Linked DNA regions of Homo sapiens. The protein of the gene in region 1 interacts with the protein of each later gene in a biochemical or structural test. Each region holds a gene or a part of one and is shown on either strand. Other genes may lie near its edges.

What was found. The genes of interacting proteins can lie anywhere in the genome.
Region 2: the proteins of KATNA1 (region 1) and CAMSAP3 form a complex in vitro, tested with the Homo sapiens proteins (one study listed by BioGRID).

Annotation. Positions count from the first base shown.
Region 1 is NC_000006.12:149,596,584-149,604,190, reverse strand, and holds part of KATNA1 (katanin p60 ATPase-containing subunit A1), read left to right. Parts: intron 1-817; coding exon 818-923; intron 924-2,438; coding exon 2,439-2,597; intron 2,598-5,840; coding exon 5,841-5,967; intron 5,968-6,549; coding exon 6,550-6,684; intron 6,685-7,001; coding exon 7,002-7,128; intron 7,129-7,607. UniProt on the Homo sapiens protein: Catalytic subunit of a complex which severs microtubules in an ATP-dependent manner. Microtubule severing may promote rapid reorganization of cellular microtubule arrays and the release of microtubules from the centrosome following nucleation.
Region 2 is NC_000019.10:7,590,729-7,598,940, forward strand, and holds the start of CAMSAP3 (calmodulin-regulated spectrin-associated protein 3), read left to right. Parts: upstream 1-5,134; 5' UTR 5,135-5,274; coding exon 5,275-5,422; intron 5,423-8,212. UniProt on the Homo sapiens protein: Key microtubule-organizing protein that specifically binds the minus-end of non-centrosomal microtubules and regulates their dynamics and organization.

The sequences.
Region 1 (7,607 bases):
CAAGGCAATGATTTGTATGTATGTGTGTTGCTTATTATCTATAGCATCCTAGAAATGTTGCTTTTATTTTCTTTTAGAGCAGTGGTTCTCAACTTGATTAATATTACATGTAATCAAAGATCTGTAATGTATTACAATGAGTTATAAAAGTTAACTTTTCCACAAAGTTAGGTATTTTATATTTCTGTTAAAACCTTAATGATTATTAGGTATGGGTTTGAATGATATTAAAAAATATTGGGGACATTAATATTTTATACAATGAAAATACTTTTTTTAACAGAAATTGCCACATGTAGCAGTAGTAGTAGGTATTCTAGTGGTTGGAGATGACTTTATAGTAATCTCTGTGATACTCTTTAACCTTGGCATCTACCTCTTAGTAAAGCTGGAGGCAAAGCAGCTATGTTGTAGCCTGTCTCTGCTTTATACGATTTTTATTCTTTATGCTTTTTTTTAGTTTTAAAATACATGGGCTCATTGTTTCTAAATCATGGAGATTATGGAATGAGGACCATAAGAGCAGGAGTTTAAAATGAGTTGACACATAACCCTGAAGAGTGTGCCTGTAGACTATGTTCTCGTGATCCAGGCTAAAAACTGTCAACCGCCAATAACTGAAGAAAAGGTTGTGCTCTTTATATATCTGCTGGTTGACATGGTGGGCCTCATCACAGTGCATTAGTTCACCCGGGCTCAGAGAGAGGCTCACCATTCTGTCAGCAGTGCAACATCATGTGCTTCCAGTGGTTCTCAAGAGTGACTGCATAGACATGTATCATCTAAAGGGTTGTTAATAAAATGTCTTCTCTTTCAGGGATGATATCGCTGATTTAGTAGAAGCTAAAAAGTTGCTTAAGGAAGCCGTAGTGTTACCAATGTGGATGCCCGAATTCTTTAAGGGCATTAGGAGACCATGGAAAGTAAGTTTATTACTGTGATGGCATTGTCAAAGTAAATGGCAGCATGTTGATACAGAGAGCCAATATTTATCTATATTGGGAAAAGTGGAGGGAGAAAGTGGAGTCAGGAAATGTTTAAATTAAAAGGTATATGTTGTGCTACTGAGAATTTTGTTAGACCAGAAGCTGTTGCATGATTCCTAGAATAAGAAATACATACAATGTGATCTTTGGAAAGTTGAATACACAGCATTAAAATTTAGAATTTGGCCGGGCGTGGTGGCTCACGCCTGTAATCCCAGCACTTTAGGAGGCCGAGGCGGGCGGATCACCTGAGGTCAGGAGTTCGAGACCAGCCTGACCAACATGGAGAAACCCCGTCTCTACTAAAAATACAAAACTAGCCGGGCGTGGTTGTGCGTGCCTGTAATCCCAGCTATCCGGGAGGCTGAGGCAGGAGAATTGCCTGAACCTGGGAGGTGGAGGTTGTGGTGAGCTGAGATCACGCCATTGCACTCCAGCCTGGGCAACAAGAGCGAAACTCTGTCTCAAAAAAAAAAAAAAAAATTAGAATTCACCCCATTTAGAATGAGCTCATATTTGCAAATATGACCTAGTCAGCTAATGCAAAAACACTCCATTTTATATGTCATGTTGCATGATTGTAACCTGTATTTTGGGGATTGTTCTCAATAAATTAATGAGAAATATCTGCATGTGATAAATACTTTTTAAAGTCATGGGCTGATCTAAAAAAAGACCATCAAAAAAGCTTTTCTTGGATTTGGAAAACACACTGATAGGTAACTCTGCATGTATGAATAGTTGTAAAAATCCTTTATACATTAAGTGATAAGCAAGATACAAAATGATAGATATACTTTGAATAAATTATATATATATATGTATTTTGTTTGTTTTGTTTTGAGATGGAGTCTCGCTCTGTCGCCAGGCTGGAGTGCAGTGCGATCTTGCCTCACTGCAATCTCCGCCTAACGGGTTGAATTGATTCCGCTGCCTCAGCCTCCCGAGTAGCTGGGATTACAGGCATGTACCACCACGCCCAGCTAACTTTTTTTGTATTTTAGTAGAAACGGGGCTTCACCATGTTGGCCAGGATGGTCCCAATCTCCTGACCTCGTGATCTGCCTGCCTCGGCCTCTCAAAGTGCTGGGATTACAGGTGTGAGCCACCATGGCTGGCCGAATAAGTTATATTTTTAAACAACCTAATTTGTCTGAGCAAAAGGACAATCAGGATATAAATCCAGATGCTAATGGTACCTCTGTTAGGGTGCTGATATTATAAACTACTTTTTCTCATCTTTGAGTTCCAAATTTTTCATAATGTGGTTATCTTCTTTTTTAACGGGAAGAGTAAATTTGTGACAAAGTATCCTCCTGTTTATCTGTTTGTCTTTTATTTGTCTTGATATTATATATAAGTTGGTCGAAATTTGCTACTTAGTAATGACACTTTTATGAATTAGAACAATGGCAGATAAATCCTCTGCTGAGGCTATTATATTCGCAACAGGGAGTACTGATGGTCGGCCCACCTGGCACGGGGAAGACGCTCCTTGCTAAAGCAGTAGCTACAGAATGCAAGACAACATTCTTCAATGTCTCTTCATCAACTTTGACTTCCAAATACAGAGGAGAATCTGAGAAGCTTGTTCGTCTTCTGTTTGAAATGGTGAATGTTTGAGACAGCTCTAATGATTCTTTACCTCTCTAAAAGGGGAGAAAGTGAGCTGTAACTATCTCCAGTATATGGAATAGTTAGGCAGGATGCCATTTTGCCCAGAGTATGAGTCCTATGCCCTTAAAGCTAGATTTCTTTACAAACATGAATAATTAGAGTTTCTCTTTGTCTCTTTTTCTCCAGATGTAGATCCAAATCTACCAGTTTTGGGGCATGCTCACATTATGGGATCTGCATTACTAATCTTCTGTAGGAATCTGAAATTATGTTTTTTAAATCAATAGGTTTAGTTATAATATGATAACCACAGTATTGTAACAATGATGCCAAAAGGTGAGAATCATAATTTATTGTGGAACTTAGGTCACCTCCGATCTATTAACTGCACCAAATGCCTTCATTTTAATGACCTAATCTTTGGATTAGGTTCTTTCTTCCACCAATACAAATCAGAGTACCAATAGAAGAAATGTAATTCAACAAGTTCTGGTAGAGTGTTTAGATTGAATTCCACAGCCTTTTAAACTTCAGACTTTGTTAAGCTTCACTGATTACGTCACTCTTGCCTCTAAGAAACAGAGTAGTTTTATGTAATTAGGATAGAGTTATGCTATTAGTGACAAAGACGTGAATCTTCTTTTTTTTGAAATGGGTTCTCAGTCTTGCCTAGGCTGGTATGCAGGAGCATGATCACAACTCGCTGCATCCGTGACCTCCCAGGCCCAAGTGCTCTTCCCATCTAAGCCTCCCAAGCAGCTGGGATGATGGACATGAGCCACCACACTCAGCTCATTTTTTTTTTTTTTTTTTTTTTACAGATGGGGTCTTGCTGTGTTGCCCAGGCTGATCTTGAACTCCTGGGTTCAAGTGATCCTCTTGCTTCAGACTCCCAAAGTGCTAGATTTATAGGCATGGGTCACCAATCCTGGTCAAGACATGAATTCTATTTTTTTTGACAGGGTCTCATTCTGTCACCTAGGCTGGAGTGCAGTGTTGCAATCTCGGCTCACAGCAGCCTTCACCTCCTAGCCTCAAGCGATCCTCCCACCTTAGCCTCCTGAGTAGCTGGGACTACACAAGTGCACTACCATGCCTGGCTAATTTTTGTATTTTTAGTAGAGATGAGGTTTTGCCATGTTGACCAGGCTGGTCTTGAACTCCTGACCTCAGGTGATCTGCCCACCTTGGCCTCCCAAAGTGTTAGGATTATAGGTATGAGCCACTGCGCCTGGCCTTTTTTGATTTTTTTGTAGAGATGAAGTCTCACTACGTTGCCCAGGCAGTCTAGAACTCCTGGCCTAACACTCCTCTTGCCTAGACCCCATAAAGTGCCGGGATTACAGGCAAGAGCCATTGTGTTCAGCTTTTTTTTTTTTTTTTTTTTTTTTTTAAGATAAGCTCTCACTATATTGCACAGGTTGTAGTGCAGTGGTTATTCACAGGCACAATCATAGCATACTGCATCCTCCTCTCTCAGCATCCCAAGTAGCTGGGACTTCAGTCGTGTACCACTGCACTCAGCTTTCAAGCCTTATTTTTATTGTCCTTAGGGTAATGAACTCTCAGCAAAGTTAGCCCTCATTTTGTCATAGTTCCAGCAAAAGTCCAAAGATTAATATTTGGCCTGTTTTGAGTTTCATACCTATGCCGAAACTCCTTGTTTTTGGTCAGAGAATTGGAGTGCTCTGATTGGCCAGGTCTGAATAAAACCCCTGGAGTTCCAAGTAAAGTTAGCCTCTTTTGAAGTAGTGGAATAGGAATGAGAGGGGCCCGGCATGGTGGCTCATGCCTGTAATCCCCGCACTTTGGGAGGTTGAGGCGGGCAGATCACTTGAGGTCAGGAGTTCGAGACCAGCCTGGCCAACATGATGAAACCCCGTCTCTACTAAAAATACAAAAATTAGCCAGGTGTGGTGGCGTGCACCTGTAATCCCAGCTACTTGGGAGGCTGAGGCAGGAGAATTGCTTGAACCGGGGTGGCAGAGGTTACAGAGAGAGGGAGAGGGGAGAGGGGAGAGGGGAGGAAAGAAAGAAAGGGATGATTTGCAAATGAAAAAGAGGCTTCTCTTACCAGAAGTGTGCTGTGCAGGGAGAACCAATTGGTGTCCTCTACCGTACCTTCCTGGGCCAGCTAAACCCAGGACACATAGCCTTTCCTTGAAGTCAGATCATTCTACATAACCTCAGTATGTGGGAAGAATCAGTCTAGTCACTTTTGCTTGGTGTGGCAACAGACTGAAGTTTAATTTTTGTTGATGTAGGTGCTTTTGATAGATGCTTCCTAAAATTTTAGTTGAGAATTTTCTTGGATGTTTTAATGATGATGAAGTTCACTCTTTCCCTCTCTCCATTTGTTGAAAAAGTACAAAAATATTTATACATAAAGACCCAAGTATTGACTCTCTTTAAAGATGAAATTATCCCACTAGGTACAGTGGCTCATTGTAATCCTAGCATTTTGGGAGGCCGAGGCAGGAAGATTGCTTGAGTCTAGGAGTTTGAGACCAGCCTAGGCAACATAATAAGACACCATCTCTACCAAAAATATAAAAATAAGCCTGGTGTGGTGGCACACACCTGTAGTCCTAGCTACTCGGGAGGTTGAGGTGAGAGGATTGCTTGAGCCCAGGAGCTCAAGGTTGAAGTGAGCCAAAATCATATCACTGCACTCCAGCCTGGATGACAGAGCAAGACCTTGCCTCTTAAAAAAAAATAAATAAATAAAAAACGGTTCATTAGAAGCCATATTTTAGCTGTTCTAATTCTATCCCATCTCCCCAGTATTAGCGTGAGAGAAAGATGCACAGTGTGGCAGGCTCCTTAGCTGTTTTGTTGTTTTCTTTCTTTCCTCTTGTTTTAGAGACAGGTTCTCACTCTGTCACCCAGTCTGGAATACAGTGGTGTGGTGTGATCATAGCTCACTGCAGCCTTGAACTCCTGGGCTCAAGGGATCCTCTCACCTAGCCTCCTGAGTAGCTGGGACTCAGACACGTGTAACCACACTCAACTAATATTTTAATTTTCTGTAGAGATGGAGTCTTGCTATGTTGCCCAGGCTGGTCTCGAACTCTTGGGCTCAATCCATCCTCCTGCCTCACCCTCCCAGTGTTGGGATTACAGGTGTGAGCCACTGTGCCCAGCCTCCCTCAGCTATTTTCTGATTGCTAATCTGTAGATTATTTTAAAATGAAATAATAGCTTAATAGCTTGATATTGCATGGTTTCTTCCTTTAGGCTCGATTTTATTCTCCAGCCACCATATTTATTGATGAGATAGACTCCATCTGTAGTCGCCGAGGGACTTCTGAAGAACATGAAGCAAGCAGAAGGGTGAAAGCGGAGCTGCTGGTTCAGATGGATGGTATCTGTGTTTAGCTTGAGTTGAACAGGGACGGGAGGTTGTTAGGTGTGGTGTCTCCAGTTCCAGTGGGTCAAACTTTACTCATAGTGCTAACCCAAGCTTTTAATAGGTATTCTTAACTTCAGATGGACTAGAGGGGGTGGCAAGAAGTTCCTGATAGTGATAGTAATAGATTTGGTACACTGACAGTGGTGACAAGTCAGAATTAATGGCCACACACAGGGCACCCTTTTGGTATATACAACTATCTTACTTTAGCTATGAAATTGAAATAAAAATAAATGCAGATAAATTGGCCTTAGAGTTTATGTACGCTTTGAAAAAGATTTAAAATTGTTATGTATTTGAGATCTGGCTTTTCGATTAAATCTATTTTGAGTCATATATTTGCATACTACAGAACTCATTTTCTTTGGATTACAAATTCACATAGGTACCAGTTAACCTAAGTCTTAAGGAGGCATTAAGACTGTGCTTCCTTGTATTGTTGTACTAAATAGTTGTTGATCTTTAAATAGCTGAGCTTCATTTGGTATAATCCAACTTAATATCTTTTTCACTCTCCCCTTACCCTTATTTTAGGTGTTGGAGGTACTTCTGAAAATGATGACCCTTCCAAAATGGTTATGGTTCTGGCAGCTACTAATTTTCCCTGGGATATAGATGAGGCTTTAAGACGACGCCTTGAGAAACGAATCTATATTCCTTTGCCGTCAGGTATCTTCCTTTCAATCTTGTCAGAAAGCCTGTTAACTTTCATGTAGTTTTGTTTAGAGAATTTAAAATTTGTTATTAACTAACTTTCTGGAAGAGATACATGAGGAGTATCTTCCTTTACAGTACTAGTTTGGCTATATGCCTTAATACTAAATAGTAAGGAATTAAAAAGTAAAGAATGGCTCTTTACTTAATTATCTCTTCTTAGAGATCCAATTCTTACTGGAAGACAACATCTCACACAAAGAAGATTTGAGACAATAGTATACTATGTTTATGCTGCAGGCTTACATTTTAAAATTTGTTTCTACCATTAGCAAAAGGCAGGGAGGAGCTATTACGAATAAGTCTACGTGAGTTGGAATTGGCTGATGATGTTGACCTTGCAAGTATAGCAGAAAACATGGAAGGTTATTCAGGTGCGGACATTACCAACGTGTGCAGGTATGAATTATCATGGAAGCATAGGTTTTTGTAAGCATAAACTTCTAGTATGAAGTTTTTTGGTTTTGTTTTTTGAGACACAGTCTCGCTCTGTTGCCTAGACTGGAGAGTAGAGGCGCAGTCACAGCTTACTGCAGCCTGAAACTCCTGGGCTCAAGTGATCCTCTGACGTGAAGTTTTTATGCTGAATTAAGACAGATCAATATCTTGGTGGTGGCTCACGCCTGTAATCTCAGCACTTTGGGAGGCCAAGTGGGAGATCACTTGAGCCCAGGAGTTTGACTGGCCTGGGTAACATTGCAAGACCTCATATCCATGAAAAAAATTTTAAAAATTAGCCGGGCATGGTGGTTCCCACCTGCTCAGGAAGCTGAGGCAGGAGGATCGCTTGAGCCCAGGAGTTTGAGGCTGCAGTGAGCCATGATTGTGCCACTGCACCCCAGCCTGGGCGACAAAGCAAGACCCTGTGTCCAAAGAAA
Region 2 (8,212 bases), on another chromosome or scaffold:
CATCCCAGGAAAAGCAAACCCACGTGTGAGCCGGCAGGACACGCCAAGCTCACAGAGGGGCAGGTTATGGCAGAAGCACCCTTTCCTGCTGGAAATGCTTCCCCGGGCCAGGAACCCCAGGTCTCCAGATGGGGAAACTGAGGTCCAGTGGGGAAAAGACCTTGTTTAGGTCCTTCGAGGGGACTGGGACAGGAGCCGGGGCATGCGTCATCCACATCAGCACCTGTGCTCACACACACAGACACTGGCCCCTTTGCGCACCCACACCCACTCCTGCACGGGCACATCCAGACAGGAGGGCCCACGCCCCAGCTCCCCTCCCTCGGCACACCCACCCCCATGCCTGCTCACATGCTCCGGACCATGAGACCCACGCCCCAAACACACGTGCCATTTCAACAAAGAGCTAGCTCTGGGGCCACCATCCGGGGTCAAGGGTCTTGGAGACCACCTTGCCACAGCGTCTTTCCATTTCATAGCGTTTTGTTTTTGTTTTTTTTTATGAGACGGAGTTTTTTTGCTCTCATTGCCCAGGCTGGAGTGCAATGGTGCGATTTTGGCTCACCGCAACCTCCACCTCCCAGGTTCAAGCGATTCTCCTGCCTCAGCCTCCTGAATAGCTGGGATTACAGGCATGCGACACCATGCCTGGCTAATTTTGTGTTTTTAGTAGAGATGGGGTTTCTCAATGTTGGTCAGGTTGGTCTTGAACTCCAGACCTCAGGTGATCTGCCCACCTTGGCCTCCCAAAGTGTTGGAATTTATTTATTTATTTATTTATTTATTTTTTTTTTTGAGACGGAGTTTCGCTCTTGTTGCCCAGGCTGGAGTGCAGTGGTGCAATCTCAGCTCACCGCAATCTCTGCCTTCTGGTTTCAAGCAATTCTCCTGCCTCAGCCCCCCAAGTAGCTGGGATTACAGGCATGCACCACCACCTCTGGCTAATTTTTTTTTTATTTTTAGTAGAGATGGGTTTCTCCATGTTGGTCAGGCTGGTCTTGAACTCCGGACCTCAGGTGATCCGCCCACCTCAGCCTCCCAAGGTGCTGGGATTACAGGCGTGAGCCACTGGGCCCGGTCTTTTTTTTTTTTTTTTCTTTTTGAGATGGAGTCCTGCTCTTTCGCCCAGGCTAAAGTGCAGTGGCACGATCTCAGCTCACTGCAACCTCTGCCTCCTGGGTTCAAGCAATTCTTCTGCCTCAGCCTCCTGAGTAGCTGGGATCACAGGCGCCAGCCACCACACACAGGGAATTTTTGTATTTTTAGTAGAGATGGGGTTTCACAATGTTGGCCAGGCTGGTCTCGAATTCCTGACCTCAGGTGATGCACCTGCCTCAGCCTCCCAAAGTGCTGGGATTACAGGAGTGAGCCACTGTGCCCGGCCTGTATGTTATCTTTTTACGTATCACTTTCTGAGTGCATTTGTGTGCATGAAGCTGACATTTACATTTGTGTGAATTTGTGAATATTTGTGTGAGTCTGTGAGCACTTATTCCTGTTCACAAGGTGACAAGGTGCCTATGTATGTGTGTGTGTGTGTGTGTGTTCTGAAAGTAACACACGTTTTTCTTTTCTTTTTTTTTTTTTTTTGAGACAGAGTCTGGCTCTGTCACCCAGGCTGGAGTGCAGTGGCAAGATCTCAGCTCACTTCAACCTCTGCCTCCTGGGTTCAAGCGCTTCTCCTGCCTCAGCCTCCCAAGTAGCTGGGATTACAGGCATGTGCCACCATGCCTGGCTAATTTTTGTATTTTTAGTAGAGACAGGGTTTCACCATGTTGGTCAGGCTGGTCTTGAACTCCTGACTTCAAGTGATCCACCTGCCTCGGCCTCCCAAAGTGCTGGGATTACAGGCTTCAGCCACCGTGCCTGGCCGAAAGTAACACACTTTTCTTTCCAGGCCTGTAAAGAACGAACTCACACAAACACTTGTGCATTCACAATTATATACAGCTAAGAGGCATGCAGGGGATATTTTGACAAAAATACAATGGAGGGCCAAGCACAGTGGCACATGCCTGTAATCCCAGCACTTTGGGAGGCCGAGGTGGGAGGATCCCTTGAGCCTAGGAGTTTGAGATCAGCCTGGGCAATATAAGGAGATCCCATCTCTACACAAAACAAAAAATTAGCCAGGGATGGTGGCTGCAGTGAGCCATGATTGTGCCACTGCACTCAAGCCTGGGGTGACAGAGTGAGATCCTGTCCAAAAAAAAAATAAAACAACAACAACAAAACAAACAATAGAACAAAAGCAAATATTAAAATATTAAAAACATCCGGCTGGGCGCGGTGGCTCATGCCTGTAATCCCAGCACTTTGGGAGGCCGAGGCGGGTGGATCACCTGAGGTCAGGAGATCAAGACCATCCTGACTAACACAATGAAACCCCGTCTCTACTAAAAATACAAAATATTAGCTGGGCATGGTGGCCGGCGCCTGTAGTTCCAGCTACTGGGGAGGCTAAGGCAGGAGAATGGCGCGAACCCGGGAGGCGGAGCTTGCAGTGAGCTAAGATTGCACCACTGCACTCCAGCCTGGGTGACAGAGCGAGACTCGGTCTCAAAAAAAAAAAAAAAAACAAACAGAAAAAAAAAAACCAAAAATCCACAAATCGGTGCTTAGACCTTACAAATAAACACACAATTGCACTCATGTACACAAATATTTGTACTCAACGCGTTCACACACACTTCCATACTTACAGACACAATCAGATTCATACACAGAAATACATTTGCTTACACAGATATGAATTCCTAGATAAATATGCACATTTGAACTCTCACAAAAGCATTCAGACACAGGCATTCTTTTTTTTTTTTTTAATGTGACGGAGTCTCACTCTGTCGCCCATGCTGGAGTACAGTGGTGCAATCCTAGCTTGCTGCAACCTCTGCCTCCTGGGTTCAAGCGATTCTCCTGCCTCAGCCTCCCAAGTAGCTGCAATTATAGGTGTGGGCAACCACGCCCGGCTAACTTTTGTATTTTTAGTAGAGATGGGGTTTCACCATGTTGGCCAGGCTGGTTTTGAACTCCTGACCTCAGGTGATCCACCCGCCTCAGCCTCCCAAAGCACTGGGATTACAGGCATGAGCCACTGCACCCAGCAGAAACAGGCATTCTTGCACAGGTATACCTGCTTTCATGCCTACACAATCTGTCACAGGCACCCACCATATATTCAAATCCACAAAGATACTCACATATAAACACACATATATGCACAAAAATATAGTCAGGAACTGCTCATCATAAATCACACATCTGCTGGGCGCGGTGCCTCAAGCCTGTAATCCCAGCACTTCAGGAGGCCGAGTTGGGCGGATCACGAGGTCAGGAGATCGAGACCATCCTGGCTAACATGGTGAAACCCGGTCTCTACTTAAAAAAAAATACAAAAAACCAGCCGGGCGTGGTGGCGGGTGCCTGTAGTCCCAGCTACTCGGGAGGCTGAGGCAGGAGAATGGCATGAACCCAGGAGGCAGAGCTTGCAGTGAGCCAAGATCGCACCACTGCACTCCAGCCTGAGCGATAGAGCGAGACTCCGTCTCAAAAAATCAATCAATCAATCAATCACACATCCATGTGCATATAGCCAGATTCACATACTCAAATACAAACCCACTTAGACACACAGCCTCACCTCCACACAGAGCCTTCTCCCAGCACACACTGCAGATACCAGAATAATACACAAAGACACTTGCAAATACACCCAGTACAGCTACGCAAGGACACTCATAGACACAAATAGTCACACTCTTGCAGAAATATACACACTTTTTTTTTTTTTTTGAGACAGGGTCTCACTCTGTTGGCCAAGCTGGAGTGCAGTGGCACTATCTCAGCTTCTGCCTCCCTGGTTCAAGCGATTCTCCCGCCTCAGCCTCCCGAGTACTTGGGATTACAGGCATGCACCATTATGCCCGGCTAATTTTTAAAAATTTTATTTTTAGTAGAGACGGGGTTTTGCTATGTTGGCCAGGCTACTCTTGAACTCCTGGCCTCAAGTGATCTGCCCGCCTTGGCCTCCCAAAGTGCTGGGATTACACTCGTGGCCACCGCTCTCGGCCTGAAATACACACACTCTCAATGTCTCTCCATACTCCTGCATTGACAGAGGCATCAATAACAGCCTCATACAACACACCAGTACGTTCAGATGCACAGAGATAGACATACTCACAGCACTCCAAAAACACACACACAGCCGGGCACGGTGGCTGCCGCCTGTAATCCCAGCACTTTGGGAGGCTGAGGCGGGTGATCACCTGAGGTCAGGAGTTTGAGACTAGCCTGGCTAACATGGTGAAACCCCAACTCTACTAAAAATACAAAAATTAGCCGGGAGTGGTGGCGCAACCCCGTAATCCCAGCTACTCGGGAGGCTGAGGCAGGAGAATCGCTTGAGCCTGGGAGGCGGAGGTTGCAGTGAGTCGAGATCGCGCCACTGCACTCCAGCCTGGGAGACAGAGTGAGTGAGACCCTGTCTCAAAAACAAAAACAAAAACAAAAACAAAAAACAGACACACACTCATCACTTCCATCCATCCTCAGGATACAGACATCTATATAATACATATCCTTGTACACACAACAAATTAAACACACACTTACACGTGCCCAGATACATACCCCACACACACACACCCCTAGACACCCCCCAATACACTTGGTCACCACCCAAATGTATTCAGAGATACACAGATACGAAGACACTCATATTCTTGTGCCTTCACTAACATAATCAGAAACAGGTGCACCCAACCACTCTCTGCCTGAGGGCCGGCGTTTATTGCAAGCACTTGCAGGAGCTCCTACGCCTAAGGGTAGACACTGGGGCTGGCACACACAGAGGGTCCCTAATCCTTTCCAGTAAGCTAGGCGCGCGCGCACACACTCACACACGCGCGCGCGCACACATACACACTCAGTCCTCCGCAAGCTCCCTCCACCATCGCCGCAGTCCAGGCCGCCCCCCTCCGCCCCGCCCCTGCTGCTCCGTGCACACTGCAGTGAGGGGCCCGGGCGGGGCGCAGGGGCGCGCCAGGGTCCGGGTCCGGGTTCGGGGGCGGGGCGCACCTGGGCTCCTCCCCGGGGCGGGCCCGACGCAGCGTCGCCAGCGCAAGCGGCCGCACCTGGCTCAGCAGCGGCGGCGGCGGCGGCGGCGGCAGCGGCGGTAGCAGCAGCGGGCCCGGCTGGGGCGCGAGCGCGGCGCAGCCCAGCCCAGCCCAGTCCGAGCGCGGACCCGGCGCCCGCAGCCCCGGCGCCGCCATGGTGGAGGCGGCGCCCCCCGGGCCCGGGCCGCTGCGGAGGACCTTTCTAGTGCCCGAGATCAAGTCGCTGGACCAGTACGATTTCTCGCGGGCCAAGGCGGCGGCCAGCCTGGCGTGGGTGCTGCGGGCCGCGTTCGGGGGCGCAGGTACCGGGGCTCGGGGGACCGGGGTCGGGGGCGGCGGGCCGGGCGCGGCAGGTGCTGGGGGGGGGCGGGGCGCCGGGCCGGGAAGGCAGGGGGCCGTGGGAACAATAGCGCCGGCCGCCGGGGGTCCCCGGGCTCGGGCCCCTGCCGCGCCGGGGCCTCCGAGCTTCCTGCTCGGCCCGGGCGGTGGACTTTGCCCCGCCGGCTGCGGGAGCGCGGTGGGGGTGGGGCCCGCGGCCCAGCTCCGCGCGGGGGTCCCCGGCGTCCAAGCCTCCAGGTGAGCCGGGCGGGGTCTGCGGGCCGGGTGGGGTCTCCCCGTGCGGACCTCTCGTTCCCGCCTCCCGCACCCCCAAGGCCTTCCCTTGCACGCCTTCTTCTCTTTTACACACATCACGCCCCTGCGAGGATCTCCTCTCGGTCTCTTCCCCCGCCACACACCCTGGAGACCCAGACCCCGACCTCGCTGGGGGGTCTCGAGCGCTCCGGTCTCCACCACCGCACGACCCCCAGGCCCCAACACACACCCCGCGTCGGCCCTGGCCGCGCTGCGGGCGGCGACCGGGGAGCTCTGGGAACCCCCTTTCGCCTCCATAGCCCCCTCCAGCGCCTGGCAGCTGCGACTTATGGCCCCATTTTACTGGGGAGGTTGGCGAGCCCAGCTGAAGGGAAATGGGTAGTACAAGATCGCCTGGGGTGGGCCCCCCGCTCCTCCCGGCTGCGGGGCCTTCTCCCATTAGAGCAGATCCTTCACTCCCTCCCCCAGGCCCGCTTGCCTGAGAGCCCGAGCCACCCTAATGGGGAGGATGCCGTAATCCCGGGTCCCCGGGATTAGAGGCCCTGGAAACACTCAGTCTCGGCTTTGGGCAGCTTCACAACCCCAGGCCAGAGCTAGGAGTCAGGGCCTGGCCAGAGAAGACAGGGGTTAATTAAGGTCTGGGCTTTCCAGCGGGGAGCTGTGGGGGTACATCCTTTTCTCCCACTGGTTCTGCCCACTGGTGTTGGCACAGCCCATCCCCCCTCTCCCTGGCCTTCCCAGATCAACCTGTTCTGGGTGTGGGTCTCAGTGACAGCTGTCCGTCTCCTGGTTCCGCCCCAGCCTGTCCCTCTTTCTCCCAGACAGTCTCTGTCTGCGTCGTTCCATGCATGCATTTCCCACTCTGGGGTCTACCTCCCTGCAGATATTTGCTTGAGGAAGAAAGAGATTGGGCATTGGACAGCCAGGACAGCCCCAGCTCCTCACTTCCAAGGTTACCAGGCTGTAGAGAACTCAACGTGGAGTGTCAGAATTGAATGTGAAGTCCAGCTGCACCAGAATGCGAATTATCCCAATTATCTGAGCTTCTGTTTCCCCTTCTATAAAAGAAGGCGTTCATTCACAGACTTATCTGTTTTGCGAATGTTTGTGGGGCAGGGGCACTTGCTATGTGTAGGGCACTGCTCCAGTGATGGAGACCCCCCGTTACCTCTTTGCAAGGTTGCTGGGAGGCGTAAAAGCTGTAGTGACCACAGAATTCTTCGCGTGGCACGGGGCGCGTGATACATGCGAAACGGTTGCTCGCTGCTGGTGTGATTGGCGGTGGTATATTTTGATGAATAATATTAACGTTATCCATTATCCCCTGGCCAGGAATCAGAGTAGAAATTATCCCATTTTGAAGACAGCAAAGCAAACTTCTGATGAGGGGTGTTGGTGAGCTCCCAGTGCCCTGACTCACCCAGTTCTGTTCTTGTTGACCCAGCTCCCTCTGCTGTGTGACACACGGCAGTGGCTGCCTCTACCGTGAGGGTCAAGTTCAATCTGTTCCCTGTTCCACTCCCCTAAAAAGAGGAGAAGGGCTGAAGGAAATGGGAGCAGAGTTCTACAAGATTCATGAGCTCTGGGGACTCTTGACGGTATGATACCTATCAGGTGCTGGGCTGGGCGCTCAGGGTGTAGAGGAGACGGCAGGGGATGGATATGGGGCAGAGGGGGATGGGCAGGAAACCAGATCATAGGGAAGCTGGCCAGCGGGGCCTGGGGAAAGAAATTCTTGAAATCTTCCAGGGAGGGAAGAGATCCCACAGGTGGAAAGATTTGAGTCTGGAAGGATGCATGGAAGTTTGACACGGAGAAGAGATGTGTGGGCAGTGGGCAAAGGCTCGGAGTGTGGACCAGCAGGGAGTTCTCAGAGAATAAGATGCAGGTCCCCGGGGTGGCGGTGGGAGATAAGGGAGGCTGGTCAGACTGAGGAAGGCCCTTCAGGCCCCTGGTTATGGATCCAAGGGTACTGGGGAGCCACGGACAGTGTTGGGAACTGACAAGATCAGGTATGCAGTGGCCCCGTGGGAGTAGTGATGGCTCAGAGGAAGGGATAGTTCTGGCAACTCCAAGGCACAGGTGTGAGAAGGCTGTGCAGAAATAAAAGCAGAACACAAGCTTGGAGATTAGATAAGAAAGGGTTCCAAGCCTGGCCAACACGATGAATCCCCGTCTCTACTAAAAATCCAAAAATTAGCCGGGAATGATGGCACACGTCTGTAGTCCCAGCTACTTGGGAGGCTGAGGCAGGAGAATTGTTGAACCTGTGAGGCGGAGGTTGCAGTGAGCCGAGATTGCACCACTGCACTCCAGCCTGGGTGAAAGAGAGAGACTCTGTCTCAAAAAACAAAGGGTTCCATGTTAAACACATTTGGAAAACACCCCATGCAGTTCTTTATGCCTTCAGAACAGATGTGTGATGTGTGAGGGAAACTCAAGTTCATGTTGGACATTTTTATCCTGGACAAGTTATCTCAGCTCTCCAGGCCTTGGTT